Regions from separate parts of the Homo sapiens genome. Here region 2 is linked to region 1. The links come from fine-mapping of genetic effects on gene expression. A gene starts in region 1. The other region holds a variant in brackets. All regions are shown on one strand. Distances are from middle to middle. Region 1 holds the start of TINCR (TINCR ubiquitin domain containing). Region 2 has its middle 20 kb from the start of TINCR.

Evidence for each region. PIP is the estimated chance that this variant, and not a neighbour inherited with it, causes the effect.
Region 2: its variant is the best candidate, but not a certain one, in a credible set for the expression of TINCR in gastroesophageal junction (GTEx, PIP 0.79).

Annotation. Positions count from the first base shown.
Region 1 is chr19:5,565,313-5,569,563 of GRCh38, forward strand. It overlaps TINCR (TINCR ubiquitin domain containing), which reads right to left and starts at 2,641. Exons shown (of 3, transcript NM_001396408.1): 1 at 2,353-2,641. The coding sequence starts at 2,612.
Region 2 is chr19:5,545,450-5,549,700 of GRCh38, forward strand. No RefSeq gene overlaps it. Among named protein-coding and RNA genes, the nearest start is that of TINCR, 20 kb to the right of the region's middle. The variant A/G (reference allele first, on the strand shown) is at 2,010.

The DNA of each region.
Region 1 (4,251 bases):
TCACCTTTCCGGAGAGGCGTCCCCCAGTCACTGATCCCTCTCCACCTTCCCTGCATCCCCCACAGCGCCAATTGCGAGTTGACATTCTCCTGTGCTATTATTTGGCTCTAGGCTCTGTGAAGGCGAAATCTGGTCTCTCTGGGTCACTGCTGAATTTCAGTGTCCAGCATGGAGTCTGGCACACAGTAGGCACACAATAAATGCTGACTCTGTACTGCATAATTACAGTCTGGACGTCTGAGGGTCGTCCAGCCCCCAGACCTCATAGAAGGTACGCTGCCGAGAACACCCTCTCCTAGCCCCAAGCTCTGAACCTCCATCCCTCATCATCCTCTCAGCCTCCCCGTCCCCGCTAAGATCTTCCCTCAAGAGGGCCTGGGGAGGGGGCCTCTCCTGCCCCCATTGCAGCCCCAGACTCCTGCAACGGGGTGGCATCTGAGGCTCCTGCCCTCAAAACATCAACCCAGGCTCGGTGACTCAAGCCTCTAGAGGGCTGGTGAATGTGACCCCCATAAAATCCAGGGTAATTCACATGGCCCCCGTCCCTCTCCTGTTCAATGCTTCCAAGGAGGTGGTCCCAGGCTCTGAGACGAGGCCCCACCATCTTCACCACCTCTCGGCCATCCTCGACCCATTTCCCAGAGCTGCCCCAGGCCGGCAGTGAGCTGTTCCCGTGGCCCCAGCGCCCTTCTCTGCAGACCCCTCCTTGGGCCAGAAGACGCCCCACTTGAGGGTCGTCTTGGCCAGGGGACCTCTTTGGGGACCCAGATATCCAAGTGTGAGTGTGGGTAACGGACACTGGAGTGGGGCTGTGGGAAAGATAAGGCGGTAGGGAGAGACCAGAGAAGGAAGAGAGAGACAGAGCTTCAGAGACAGAGAAAAACAGCAGAGAAAAATGCAGAGACACCAGAGAGATAAAGAGACACAGACACACATGTTGAGACACAGCGAGAAAAAGAGCAGAGACCAAAATAACAGAGACAGAGACACAGAGAGAGAAATACACAGCGGGAAGAGACAGAAATGGACAGAGACACGCAGAGAAACAGAGAGACAAAAGAGACACACAGAGAGAAAAAGAGCAGAGACAGAAATGGAGAGAGACAGAGAAAGAGAGACAGAAATGGAGAGACACACAGAGGAAAGAAAGCAGAGACCAAAATGGGCAGAGACACAGAGAGAGACAGAGACAAAAGAGACAGAGACTCACAGAGACACAGAGAGAGATGCGCGCACACACAGACAGAACTGGACAGGGACACAGAGACAGAGACACAGAGAGACAGAGAGAAAAACAGCAGAGACAGAGACAAATGGACAAAGAGACAGAGAGACAGGGAGAGAGAGACACACACATACACAGACACAGAGAAAAACAGAGACAAAAATGGACAAAGAGACAAAAGAGACAGACACAGAGAGACACAAGGAGAAAAACAGCAGAGACAGAAATGGGCAGAGACACAAAGAGACAAAGGGGAAGAGAGACAGAGACACACACACAGAGGAAAAAAGCAGAGACCAAAATGGGGAGACAGAGACCAGAGAGGGAGACAGAAAAGAGAGAGGGAGACAGAGATGAGGGAGAAACAGGGAGGAAAACAGCAGAGAGAGAAGTGGGCAGAGACACAGAGTGACAGAGAAAAGAGAGACAGAGACAGAGACAATCACAGGCAACCAAATCATCAGGGAAAGAAATAAACAGAGGCAGAGATGGAGAGAGACACACAGAGAGGAAAAAACAGAGACCAAAATGGAGAGAGAGACAGAGACAAAGACAAAAGAGAGAGAGGTGAGGAGACAAAGATGAGAGACGCAGAGATAAAAGAGACAGAGACAAGAGACAGAAACAAGAGGGAGACAGAGATAAGAGATGGAGATGAGACAGCCACAAAAGAGATGAGAGAGACAAAGATGAAAGAGACAGAGATAAAAGAGAGACACAGACAAAAGAGAGAGATGAAAGAGACAAAGAGAGGCACAGAGATAAGAGTCAGAGACAAGAGACAGAAAGAAGAGGGAGAGAGATGAGAGACAGAGACAAAAGAAGAAGAGACAGAGATGAGAGACAGAGACGAGAGAGTGACAAAGATGAGAGTGACAGAGACAAAAGAGAGAGAGGCAGAAAAACAGCAGAGACAGAAACAGGCAGAGAAACAGGCACAGACAGAGAGCCCGAAAGCAAGACCTGACACCGGCAAGGCCGGGTCAGGAGAGAGGCCGGGCGGGCAGCGCGAGGTGGGAAAGCAGTGCCGGCCCGGGAGGCCGCCTTGGGCGCCCGCCTCCCCCGCCGCTCTCCAGGGGTCCCCGGCCGCCGCCCCCGCCCCACCCCACCCCGAGCCCCGCGGCCACCTGGGGTCGCTGACGAGCAGCAGCACCGAGCCGTCCTGCAGGCGCGCGTCGCGCACCGTCTGGTGGTCGTCCAGCCGCCGCGCGTTGTAGTAGAAGGCGCGCTTCCAGGAGCTCACGCCCTGGCCCACCAGCTGGGCGCGCAGGTCGCTGAGCGTGTCCCGCGGCCGCACGGTCAGCGGTAGCAGCAGCGCCTCGTCCGCCAGGTGCACCTTGATGTGGTAGCGCTTCCAGCGCGACAGCCCCCGCCGCAGCCCCTCCATGGCGCCCGCCCGGCTCCGGCTCCAGCTCTGGCCCCGGGCCCCGAGCGCCCCGCGCACCCGCCCGACTAGCCTGGCCGCCCGCCCCCGCCGCGCCCGCGCTCCGCCCGCCCGGACACGCCCGGCACGCAGTGGGCAGGCCCGGCCCGGCGGGGCGGGGCGGGTGCCACGGTCCCCTCAGGCGTCCGCTCCCCACTGCTGGCCCCAGAGTGCGCCCGGGGGTCTAGAGGCGGAGTGGCCACTCAGCACAGAGCCATCAGCGAGGTCATCCCAGCCAAGGAGACGCGCGAATGTCCAGGGGGTTACATGGTGGAGGCTCCAGGGAGGGAGGCTGGGAGGCCACTTTATTTGATCTTTTTAAGGACAGGCTGGAGCGCAGTGGCGCAATCATGGTTCGTTGCAGCCTTGACCTCCCGGGCTCAAGCGATCCTCCCGCCTCAGCCTCTCAAGTAGCTGGGACTACAGGCGCTGCCACCAAGCCCAGCTCACTTTTGTAGTTTTTGTAGAGATGGGGCCTGGCCGTGTTGCCCAGGCTGGTTTTGAACTCCTGACGTCAAGTGATTCTCCGCCTTGGCCTCCCAAAGCGGTGGGATTATAACCCTCAGCCACCACGCTCAGCCTACATTAAAAAAAAAATTTACTTTTAGGCCAGGTGCGGTGGCTCATGCCTGGAATCCCAGCACTTTGGGAGACTGAGGTGGGCGGATCACATGAGGTCAGGAGTTCGAGACCAACCTGGCCAACATGGTGAAACCCCGTCTCTACTATAAGTACAAAAATTAGCCAGGCGTGGTGGCACATGCCTGTAGTTCCAGCTACTCAGGAGGCTGAGGCAGAAGAATCGCTTGAACCCGCAGACAGAGGTTGCAGTGAGCCGAGATTGTGCCACTGCACTCCAGCCTGAGCCACAGAGCGAGACTTATCGCAAAAAAAAAAAAAAAAAAAAAAAAAAAAAAAATGGCCGGGTGTGGTGGCTCACGCCTGTAATCCCAGTACTTTGGGAGGCCCAGGTGGGCAGATCACAAGGTCAGGAGATCGAGACCATCCTGGCTAACGCGGTGAAACCCCCCCGTCTCTACCAAAAATACAAAAAATTAGCCGGGCGTGGTGGCGGGCGCCTGTAGTCCCAGCTACTCCGGAGGCTGAGGCAAGAGAATGGCGTGAACCTGGGAGGCGGAGCTTGCAGTGAGCCGAGATCGTGCGCCACTGCATTCCAGCCTGGGAGACACAGCGAGACTCCGTCTCAAAAAAAAAAAAAAAAAAGAAAGAAAGAAAGAAAGAAAGAGGGAGAGAGAGAGAAAGAGAAGAGGAAAGAAAGAATGAAAGAAAGAAAGAGAGAGAGAGAGGAAGAGAAGGAAAAAAAGAGAAGGGCTGGGTGCAGGGGCTAACGCCTGTAATCCCAACACTTTGGGAGGCCGAGGTGGGCAGATCACCTGAGGTTGGGAGATCGAGATCTACCTGACCAACACAGAGAAACCCCGTCTCTACAAAAAATACAAAAAAATTAGCCAGGCGTGGTGGTGGGTGCCTGTAATCCCAACTACTCAGGAGGCTGAGCCAGGAGAATCGCTTGAACCCAGGAGGTGGAGGTTGTGGTGAGCGGAGATCTGCCATTGCACTCTAGCCTGGGCAACAAGAGGGA
Region 2 (4,251 bases), 20 kb before region 1:
CCAGGCTGGAGTGCAATGGTGCAATCTCGGCTCACTGCAAAGCAACCTCCACCTCCCGGGTTCAAGCAATTCTCATGCTTCAGCCTCCCAAGTAGCTGGGACTACAGGCACACACCACCATGCCCAGCTGATTTTTGTTTTTTGTGTTTTTTTGAGACGGAGTCTCATTCTTGTCACCCAGGCTGGAGTGCAGTGGTATGATCTTGGCTGACTGCAACCTCCACCTCCCGGGTTCGAGCTATTCTCCTGCCTCAGCCTCCCAAGTAGCTGGGACTACACGCATGCACCACCACACCTGGCTAATTTTTGTATTTTCAGCAGAGATGAAATTTCACCATGTTAGCCAGGCTGGTCTCGAACTCCTAGCCTTGAGTGATCCACCCACCTCGGCCTCCCAAAGTGCTGGGATTACAGGCGTGAGCCACCACACCCAGCCGATAAACTCCCTTTCATATATACATCTATCTTATTAGTTCTGTCCCTCTAGAGAACCTCTAGAGAACAAATACTTTAATATTAATCTATCAGGTATCCTTCCCCACTTTATACCACCCTTATCTAGTCTATGGGGGACACTACTAATCTATCAAGTAACCTTCCCCACTTCCTGCCACCCCCACCTGTATGTGGACTACAATAGAAAGAGAGACTTGAGGCTGAAGGAAGCCCAGCGTAGGTATGAGGACTTGTTCTGGGCTTTGACGCATCCATAGGAGTTTTCTAGGTATGAGTAGGGTCTGCTGAAAGGGCTTTACTGTGTATGCAAAAGCCTAGAGAAGTGAAGGAGAGTGTGACTCATTCATGGACTAATAAGTTTGTCTCCTTGAAGCTGGAGAGGCCTTGAAGGCCAGAAAAGGAGCCTGAACGTCATCCTGTTCATCCTGTTCACAGTGACACGGTCACCCAGGCTCAATTCCACTCCCCATCTTCCAGTTTCTCGGCTTCCTCCAACACCCGACCTAGCTCCCAGGTGTTAAGGTCAGAAGTGAATGCACCTGTGAATTAGTGAAGGAATGAGTGAGCAGAGGCAGCTGCTTCAAGGTTGTGTGGTGATACATCCTTCTGAACCCTGCCCCGGTGCTTCACGGTACAGGCTCCAGAGAGGACTCAGCCTGGGACCCTGCCCCCAAGGATCCCCAGGCTGGGACTGTGGGATGGAGCTGGACACAGACACCCAAGCTCTGCAGAGTCAGGGCTGGTGCTGAGCGACCTTGGAGGGGAGGACATTGGAGCTGCGTGCAAAGCTTTTTTTTTTTTTTTTTTTTTTTTGAGAGAGGGTCTGGCTCTGTAACCCAGGCTGGAGTGCAGTGGTGCAATCTCAGCTCACTGCAACCTCCACCTCCCGGACCCAAGTGATCCTCTCTCCCAACCCAGAAGGCGGAGGTTTCAGTGAGCCGAGATCGCACCATCGCACTCCAGCCTGGGCAACAAATATGGATGTGGGGGAATAGGCAAGCAGGTAGGTGGATGTGGCTGGCTGCGTGGAAAGAACAGGGGTGGTGGGGGCAGCCAAGGATCAATCAGGCACTGGTGAGAAGTTCTAGCTTCATCCCGAAGGCAATGGGAGCCATGGAGGGCTCTGGACAGAGGAGAGACATTGCCAGACCCAGGTGCTCACAGGAACCCTTCTGGGGGCTACAGCGGCAACAGATTGTGAAGGGAGGTGATTGCATTGGTCTGGGAAAGTGACGATCATGTACCTAAACCCGCGTTGTCCAACGTGGGAGCCACTGGCCACATGTAGCTATTGAGTACTTAAAATGTGACTATCGGATCGGGCACGGTGGCTCACGCCTGTCATTCCAGCACTTTGGGAGGCCGAGGCGGGTGGATCACTTGAGGTCAGGAGTTCGAGACCAGCCTGACCAACATGGTGAAACTCCGTCTCTACTAAAAATACAAAAATTAGCCAGGTGTGGTGGCACGTGCCTGTAATCCCAGCTACTTGGGAGGCTGAGGCAGGAGAATCGCTTGAACCTGGGAGATGGAGGTTTCAGTGAGCTGAGATC[A/G]CACCATTGCACTTCAGCCTGGGTGACAAGAGTGAAACTCTGTCTCAGAACACACACACACACACACACACACACACCCCAGAAAAAATAGCTCATTCACAATTTTTTCTATAGATTGCATGCTTAAATGATAAAACACATTACTAAAACTAATTTCACCTGTTTCTTTTTACTATTTTTTATTTTTTGAGACGGAGTTTCGCTCATTGTTGCCCAAGCTGGAGTGCAATGGTGTGATCTCAGCTCACCGCAACCTCCACCTCCTGGGTGCAAGTGATTCTCCGGCCTTAGCCTCCCAATCAGCTGGGATTACAGGCGTGCACCACCACGCCCAGCTAATTTTGTATTTTTAGTAGAGACCAGGCTGGTCTCAAACTCCCGACCTCAGGAGGTCCGCCCGCCTCAGCCTCCCAAAGTGCTGGGATTAGAGGCGTGAGCCACTGCGCCCAGCCTTCTTTTTACTGTTTTTTTCTTGTGGCTACCAGGAAATCTTTAATTGCCCACGTTGATGGCATTTGCATTTCTAAAATGCTGCAGCCTTTGCACCGACCACCAGAGAGTGCTGTGCCCATGTGGCAGGATCAAGCAATCCGGAATCTGAAGGAAAAGAAAGTAGTTCAAGCTGACGATCAGTTAGATCAGTTCTTACAATGGAGACACGTTTACCATCTGGCATCTTTCAGCATCTAAGGGAGACAGATCTGCCTGGAGATAGGGAGTCTGCCGCTGATCCTCACACCATTTTATCCTGCTAGGTGGGGGACAGAATGAGGCCTGCAGTCAACTCACAGATTCTGCAGCTTTTTTTTTTTTTTTTTTTTTTTTTTTGAGACAGGATCTGGCTCTGTAACCCAGGCTGGAGTGCAATGGTGCAATGTCGGCTTACTGCAACCTCCACCTCCTGGACCCAAGTGATCCTCCCACCCCAGCCTCCCAAGTAGCTGGGACCACAGGTGTGCAACACCATACCAGGCTAATTTTTGTAGTTTTTATAGAGACAGGGTTTCACTATGTTGCCCGGGCTGGTCTTGAACTCCTGAGCTCCAGTGATGCCTGCCTTGGCCTCCCAAATTACTGGGATTAAAGGCGTGAGCTACAGCATTTATTAGATACCTACTGTCAGGCCTCTGAGCCCAGGCCAGGCCATCGCATCCCCTGTGACTGGCACGTATACATCCAGATGGCCTGAAGTAACTGAAGATCCACAAAAGAAGTAAAAACAGCCTTAACTGATGACATTCCACCATTGTGATTTGTTCCTGCCCCACCCTAACTGATCAATGTACTTTGTAGTCTCCCCCACCCTTAAGAAGGTTCTTTGTAATTCTCCCCACCCTTGAGAATGTACTTTGTGAGATCCACCCCTGCCCACCAGAGAGCAACCCCCTTTGACTGTAATTTTCCATTACCTTCCCAAATCCTATAAAACGGCCCCACCCGTATCTCCCTTCGCTGACTCTCTTTTCGGACTCAGCCGGCCTGCACCCAGGTGAAATAAACAGCCATGCTTCTCACACAAAGCCTGTTTGGTGGTCTCTTCACACAGACGCGCATGAAATTTGGTGCCGTGACTCGGATCGGGGGACCTCCCTTGGGAGGTCAATCCCCTGTCCTCCTGCTCTTTGCTCCGTGAGAAAGATCCACCTACCACCTCAGGTCCTCAGTCCAACCAGCCCAGGAAACATCCCACCAATTTCAAATCCGGTAAGCGGCCTCTTTTTACTCTCTTCTCCAACCTCCCTCACTATCCCTCAACCTCTTTCTCCTTTCAATCTTGGCGCCACATTTCAATCTCTCCCTTCTCTTAATTTCAATTCCTTTCATTTTCTGGTAGAGACAAAAGAGACATGTTTTATCCGTGAACCCAAAACTCCGGCGCCGGTCACGGACTGGGAAGGCAGCCTTCCCTTGGTGTTTAATCATTGCAGGGACGCCTCTCTGATTATACACTCACGTTTCAAGGGTGTCAGACCACGCAGGGACGCCCGCCTTGGTCCTTCACCCTTAGTGGCAAGTCCCGCTTTCCTGGGGCAGGGGCAAGTACCCCTCAACCCCTTCTCCTTCACCCTCAGTGGCAAGTCCCGCTTTCCTAGGGGGCAAGAAACCCCCAATCGCTTATTTCCGCACCCCAACCTCTTATATCTCTGCACCCCAATCCCTTATTTCCACACCCTGACCTCTTTGTGCCCCAATCCCTTACTTCCGTGCCCCAACCCCTTCTCTGCTTTTCTGGAGGGCGAGA